Linked DNA regions of Homo sapiens. The protein of the gene in region 2 purifies or fractionates together with the protein of the main gene of each other region. This does not show direct contact. Each region holds a gene or a part of one and is shown on either strand. Other genes may lie near its edges.

Region 1 (3,753 bases), on a different chromosome or scaffold from region 2:
GAAGGAAGGGGCCAGGCAGATTCACGCAGGGTAATAAAAGCAGCCTTGGGTGAGCTCTCGCCCTACCAACCCAGCCCTGCCAGCTAAGGGCTGATTGCTGTTGACATTCACAAGCACAGGAGCCAGACAGAGTGGCTCACGCCTGTAATACCAGCAGTTTGGGAGGCCAAGGTGGGAGGATCGCTTGACCCTAGGAGTTTGAAACCAACCCTGGGCAATATAGTGAGACCTCATCTCTAGAAGAAAATTAAAAAAAAAAAAAAGAAGAAGAAAGAGAAAAGGAAGCACAGGAGCCCACTTTGCATTAGCGTTTGTGCAGCGATCCCTGTCAATTTCACAACATACATATAGAGCTTTAAACTGGGAGAGCAGGTGTCATGGGATCCTTCCTTGTACTACACCGAGGAGGAAGGCAGGGGAGCATTCTTAGCCCACTTTACAGATAAAGGAATGAGGCTGGGTGCAATTAAGTGACTCAGTGCAGATATTTGCACCCCAAACCCCAGTTCAAGATTCCCCAGACCCCAAGGGATTGGGGCTCCTGTGGGGTCAGGTTAATGGACTAACTGTCCAAGGCTGAGGACCAGATCAGCCAGGAGGAAGAGCTCTTGCTGGTTGAACCCAGAACTCCCCTGGGGACTGTCCGGACATGAACCAAGAGCTGGGGTTCCTGGGCCCAGACCTGAGGTGTCTGATTGCATTTATGGAACACAGATGAGAGGCTTGGAGTTCTGGCCGGGCACGGTGGCTCACGCCTGTAATCTCAGCAATTTGGGAGGCCGACGCAAGAGTTTCACTTGAGCCCAGGAGTTCGAGACCAGCCTGGGCAACATGGCGAAACCCTGTCTCTACAAAAAAATACAAAAATTAGCCAAGCATGGTAGTATGCACATGCAGTCTCCAGCTACTTGGGAGGCTGAGGTGGGGGAATCACTTGAACCCACAAGGCAGAGGCTGCAGTGAGCCAAGATCGTGCCACTGCACTCCAGCCTGGGCAACAGAGGGAGAACCTCTCTCAACAAAAAACAAAACGAAAACAAACGAGGCTTCAAGTTCTAAAAACTAAGTTCAGCAAAGCTCTGGAAAAGGTGGAGCACCCTGAGTGGGTCACTCAGCCCCTCCAACCCTCGACTTCTTCACTTGACACCTGGACATGACTGCACCCACCTCTCAGGGTTTCCCCAGGGTCTCAAGAGACCATGGGGGTGAAAGTGTATTGCTCAACGTAATCCTAGGTGCAGAGGAGGAGAAAAGGCGCGTGGGCGGCCCAAAGTTCCCAAAGCCTGCCTTCTGCCTCCTGTCTGAAGGAGCAGCCCTGAGCCTCTAAGCTCAGACTCATAGACAGGTCCCAGGAGACTGTGCTCCAAGAGACCCCTTGGGGCACAGAGCTGGAGCAGGCAGGACCTCCGAAGGCTCACTTCCTGCTGCCTAGAATGTGTGTCCCCCACTCCTTTCCTGCCAGCTCCTTTTCTTCCTTCGAGTTTCAGCTCCCATGTGTCCTCTTGGTCTTCAGAAAGTCTTCCCCATGCCCAGCTATTTTTTAATTTTTTTTATTTTTTGTAGAGATGGGGTCTCCCTATGTTGCCCAGGCTGACCTTGAACTGTTGAGCTCAAGCGATCCTCCCCTCCCGCCTCAGCCTTCCAAAATGCTGAGATTTCAGGTGGGAGCACCTAACCATTTCTTTTGTCTGTCCCCCTTCCCTAGAACATAAGCTCTAGGATGGCAGGGATTAGACTTGTCTCATGCTTTGCACGTTCCCCAAAGGCTAACACTGGGCCTGACACAGAAAAGGCTCAGTATGCGCTGAATGAATGTGTGAACGAATGACTGAATTAACGGAGATCTTGTCTGGTGAGGAGTCAAACATATAATCAATCACAATAGGATGTGTTAAATGCTGAGGTCCAGCTAAGCCCAAACTGCTATGGGAGCTTAGAAGGGCAGGTAAGTTCCCTCATCCTATGCCCTAGCCACCCCACTAAGGACCCAGGAGGAAAGAGGCACAGGATAGAGGCGAGTTACTCACCACACATCTCAGTGAGGGCCCCCAGGACCCCCAGAAGGAAGAGGAAGGCCCCAAGGTGCCTCATGGCAGCAGCAGGTGGGTGAGCAGTGAGCAAGAATCGGGAAAGACTCCTGGGGCTGGCCCTGCTGAGGCTCTCCTGACCACAGCTGGTCACCGCTCCGAGAGACGCAGCTTCCTGTCACTGATTAATCCTCCATGCCTGCAATGCACGGCTAAGTCTGCAGAGGGGTGGGGCGGGGGAAGGTCTGTGGTGGCGGGGAACATAAGGCCAAAGAACAGAGGAAGGAAGGGCAGAGCAGCCCTCCTGGAGGTAGGGAACAAAGGGAGGAGGAGGGCTAGTGGGACCATGTGAGACATCTTGAGGCCATTCACGTTCCTGCTTAAAGAGCCCGGGACCAGCGCAGAGGGCCTGATGCCTGATCTGTCAAGTCTGTCCGACCGTGCCTGTCTGCTGTCCCCCCAGCTGTTCCAGTGGTGGATTGGCAGGACCGGGTGCCTACCCGGTACTCCTTACCAAAGGAGCCCCTGGTAGTGCCCACCTAGCCCAGGACAAGGAGTGGAACGGGAGCTGCAGCTGCAGTGGTCACGTGAGCAGCATTGCTGGAGTCAGCTGTTTTTCAGCACCGCCTCCCTCAGTTGTGGCGGGAGGGGATTGTGGGGGTGGGGGAGTTGGGCAGTTGGGGAGGGGGAGTTGGGCAGTTCGGTGGGGGGGGGGAGTTGGGCAATTGAGGGGAGGGTGGGTGCCGCTGGCCCCAGACCAGCCAGGCCACTTTTCTCAACCAATCCGAAAGGGCTGGGAGCCTCCTGGAGAGGACAAAACAAAACAAGTTAAAGAATGGGATTAAGTCCGGGCACGGTGGCTCACACCTGTAATCCTAGCACTTTGAAAGGCTGAGGCGGGCAGATCACTTGAGCTCAGGAGTTGGAGACCAGCCTGGGCAACATGGGGAAACACTGTCTCTACAAAAACACAAAAAACACATACAAAAAACCATAAATTAGCCTGGCGTGGTGGCAGACGTCTGTAATCCCAGCTACTTGGGGGGCTGAGGCAGGAGGATCGCTTGAACCCAAGAGGTGGAGGCTACAGTGAGCCAAGATTACACCACTGCACTCCAGCTTGGGTGACAAAGTGAGACCCTGTCTCAAAAATAAAATAAAATAAAAAGAATGAGATTGAATCGAGACACAAAGCTACCAGAAGCAGGGGTACTTGCCAGAACTCGGAAAGTAACCTCAAAAAAAATCTCTGCAAACAGGGAAGAGAACAAAAGATTCCTCATCTGCCCAGCCCCACAGGAGAATCAATGTATACGAGTTAACTAGTGGTGGCTGTGTGACTTTGGCCAGGTCACTTAACCTCTCGAGTTTAAAATAGTTCTTCCTGTGTGAGAAGAGAGGGTTAGGCAAGATCATCCTAACAGTTCCCTTTCAGCTCAATTTGTGAAGACACTATGACCTTAAAATATCTCCAATCATTTCCATGCACAATCTGCATTGCAATTATTTTATGGTAAATTGCCAAGGTTCACTCTTTTAAGACAATCTTTTTGAGCCTGATTTATCACAAACCAAGCCCTTGACATAAATAAATACAGCAACGTGTGTCTGTTTACGGAACTACTTGAAAATTTTAAATGATAGGTTGTCCAGTCAGAAAGGCTGGATGTGGCCACTAGGAGGAGCACCCCTGGAGGTTCTGAGGAAGGAGGGAGGCCAGTGGGGA
Region 2 (2,590 bases):
TGAGTTTGGGCAGTCATTTCTTCATCTCTCCACCCAGGCTCAGGAAGTTGTTGACAGGATTTAGTGCTATAATATCTATAAGCTCTTAGCTCAGGGTAAGCTCTCGGGTTATCACTGACTATTTTTGAACAAGGGAAGCACCCTATAGTATTTTGTAACCTTCTCTTCTTCCTTTTCACCACATCCAATTTTTCCATCCAAGTAGTAGCTGAACAACTCTACTAATTTTCATTTGTTTCCATGACTTAAAATTTAGAAGGAATTTATATGTTTTAACAACAATGTCTTATGTGTAGAGAAGGTGCCCCCCAACCTTGATTTTGCATTTTTGATATCTTTAAAGTTTTCAGAATAGCATGAGATCAAACTTTTGTTGAAAACATTTTTTCCTCCACCATCACTTTCTCAAATCTCCAAAACACACAGGCTTGCTTTGAGTCTCTCTTTCTACTGGACTCTAATACTCATAATCAGAGGACTTCATCTTAGAGGAACAAGAAACCCAGTCCCCAAGTCCACCCTTCTTCCAACTAAACCAATAATATACCAGGTTGGTCTTTAACTAACTGAAGCAATGACACTAATTTAAGAGCCAGGGCCAGCATCTAGAAAACTCTTTGAATAATAGGATGTAAGTAAAATAAGCTGGGTTTATAATTATGAATATTCTCCACACACTCCCTTTTCTCTAATATTTAGGAAATATAATAGAAATCATGAAAATATTAGGGAAAATTACATATCATAAAATATTTTGCTATGGCAAGTTGGCTATTACACAAAATGTGAGAATACAGAAACTTTTAGTATATTGGATTACTATTCTTGAAACTATGATCTAAAAAAATCTAACAAAATTCTCTCTGGGCAGCAAGAAAATTTGAGATAATTCTCTTATTCCTTTTTCTGCTTTGTAAACCTCTTTAAAATCTATGTGTGAATTGTGATTTTCGAGAAACAGGACATGGGGATGATAATACCCTTTCTCAGAATTTGAAGCAACATTTTGTAAATACTCAGGTAAGTATTCAACAATTACAGCTCCATAACTGAAACAACTGACCTATCCCCTGACCATAACTGGGAAGTCAATACAAAGCCAAAATAAATGACTCAGGACATTTTGAGATCATATTTTAGAGTGTTTGGGTAGAAACAACCTATTAACAATTAGAATCTAATCAAATCCATTTCCCTTAGCTTGAGTTGCAATCTATGTTCTTAATTTGTAAGACTTACTGTCCAAAGCCTTGCTATTCAGAGCATGGTTTGGAGCCAATGGCATCAGCATCACCTATGAATGCAGAATCTCAGGCTGTTCCCCAGATCTACTGAAACAGAATTTTTACTTCAACAAGATCTTCAGGTAATTCACAGGCCCATTAGAATTTGACAAGCACTTATCTAAAACATATTGCATTCACTTTGCTCTGTGGATAAAGGTGGTTTTCTCTGTGCAATCATTGCTAGAATTCACTTATAAAACCGCCAGTTAATGTTATACACTCTACTTGAATAGTAAGTACTGGGTTTAAAGTGTGGTTACCTAAACTCTGGTTCTTTCTCTTGTGTTTTCTAGTCCCAACCTCCCTACTACAATGTGACAGCCATGAATGTACCAATTGCAGTGTGGAACGGTGGCAAGGACCTGTTGGCTGACCCCCAAGATGTTGGCCTTTTGCTTCCAAAACTCCCCAATCTTATTTACCACAAGGAGATTCCTTTTTACAATCACTTGGACTTTATCTGGGCAATGGATGCCCCTCAAGAAGTTTACAATGACATTGTTTCTATGATATCAGAAGATAAAAAGTAGTTCTGGATTTAAAGAATTATCCGTTTGTTTTTCCAAAATACTTTATTCTCTCATACATAGTATTTTCATAATGTTTGACATGCAGTGCTTCTTTCTGTAATTTTGACTTTAGAAATATATTGGCATCAACAAACTTCCATTTGTCATTTTGAATTTTTTTAATTTAAAGAAATTTGATTTTTCACCTGGAAATTTATCTAGAAATACTTGAGAGAATATATTTCTGGGGAGGTGAAACTTCTCATTTTCCCATTCAGTTTCTCTTCTGAACTCACTTATATATGAGCTGTGAGCCATAAGTGTTTCTAAAGGACAGTGTTGGCTTCATATTCGCTCTGCTTATGTACACTTGATACTGAGTATATTGCTTTCTATTGTTGATGAAGCTAAGTCTTTCCATCTGTGTAGTGGGGCCTATCACTTGCTATTTTGCATATTTAACCCCATGGAAAGGCCAATTGGGATATAAACTGAATCAACTCACTTTCACTTCCCAGGGAGTGGAGAGCAAGGGTAGTTTGGGAAGCAGCAGATGAAGTCAACCCTGAGTCAGGAATTTGGGAAGAAAAGGGTATGCTCTATTATTATTATTATTATTATTATTATTATTATTATTATTATTGTTCTGCCCTCATGTTTTTGGGTCTTGACCACCAAATAGGCACCAACTAACCAAACTATTTTTGAAATCTCTGCCACAGTGCTGGAAACCACAGGATCCAGAAACATCCCCATTGATATATCAATTAGGATGTACAACTGCCATCAGTAACA

Evidence for each region.
Region 1: the proteins of LIPF (region 2) and TCN2 purify together in Homo sapiens (affinity purification with mass spectrometry, with the first as the bait; one large-scale study listed by BioGRID). This does not show direct contact.

Annotation. Positions count from the first base shown.
Region 1 is NC_000022.11:30,605,670-30,609,422, reverse strand, and holds the start of TCN2 (transcobalamin-2 isoform 1 precursor), read right to left. Parts: upstream 2,250-3,753; 5' UTR 2,092-2,249; coding exon 2,028-2,091; intron 1-2,027. UniProt on the Homo sapiens protein: Primary vitamin B12-binding and transport protein. Delivers cobalamin to cells.
Region 2 is NC_000010.11:88,676,866-88,679,455, forward strand, and holds the end of LIPF (gastric triacylglycerol lipase isoform 2 precursor), read left to right. Parts: intron 1-1,579; coding exon 1,580-1,816; 3' UTR 1,817-1,949; downstream 1,950-2,590. UniProt on the Homo sapiens protein: Catalyzes the hydrolysis of triacylglycerols to yield free fatty acids, diacylglycerol, monoacylglycerol, and glycerol. Shows a preferential hydrolysis at the sn-3 position of triacylglycerol.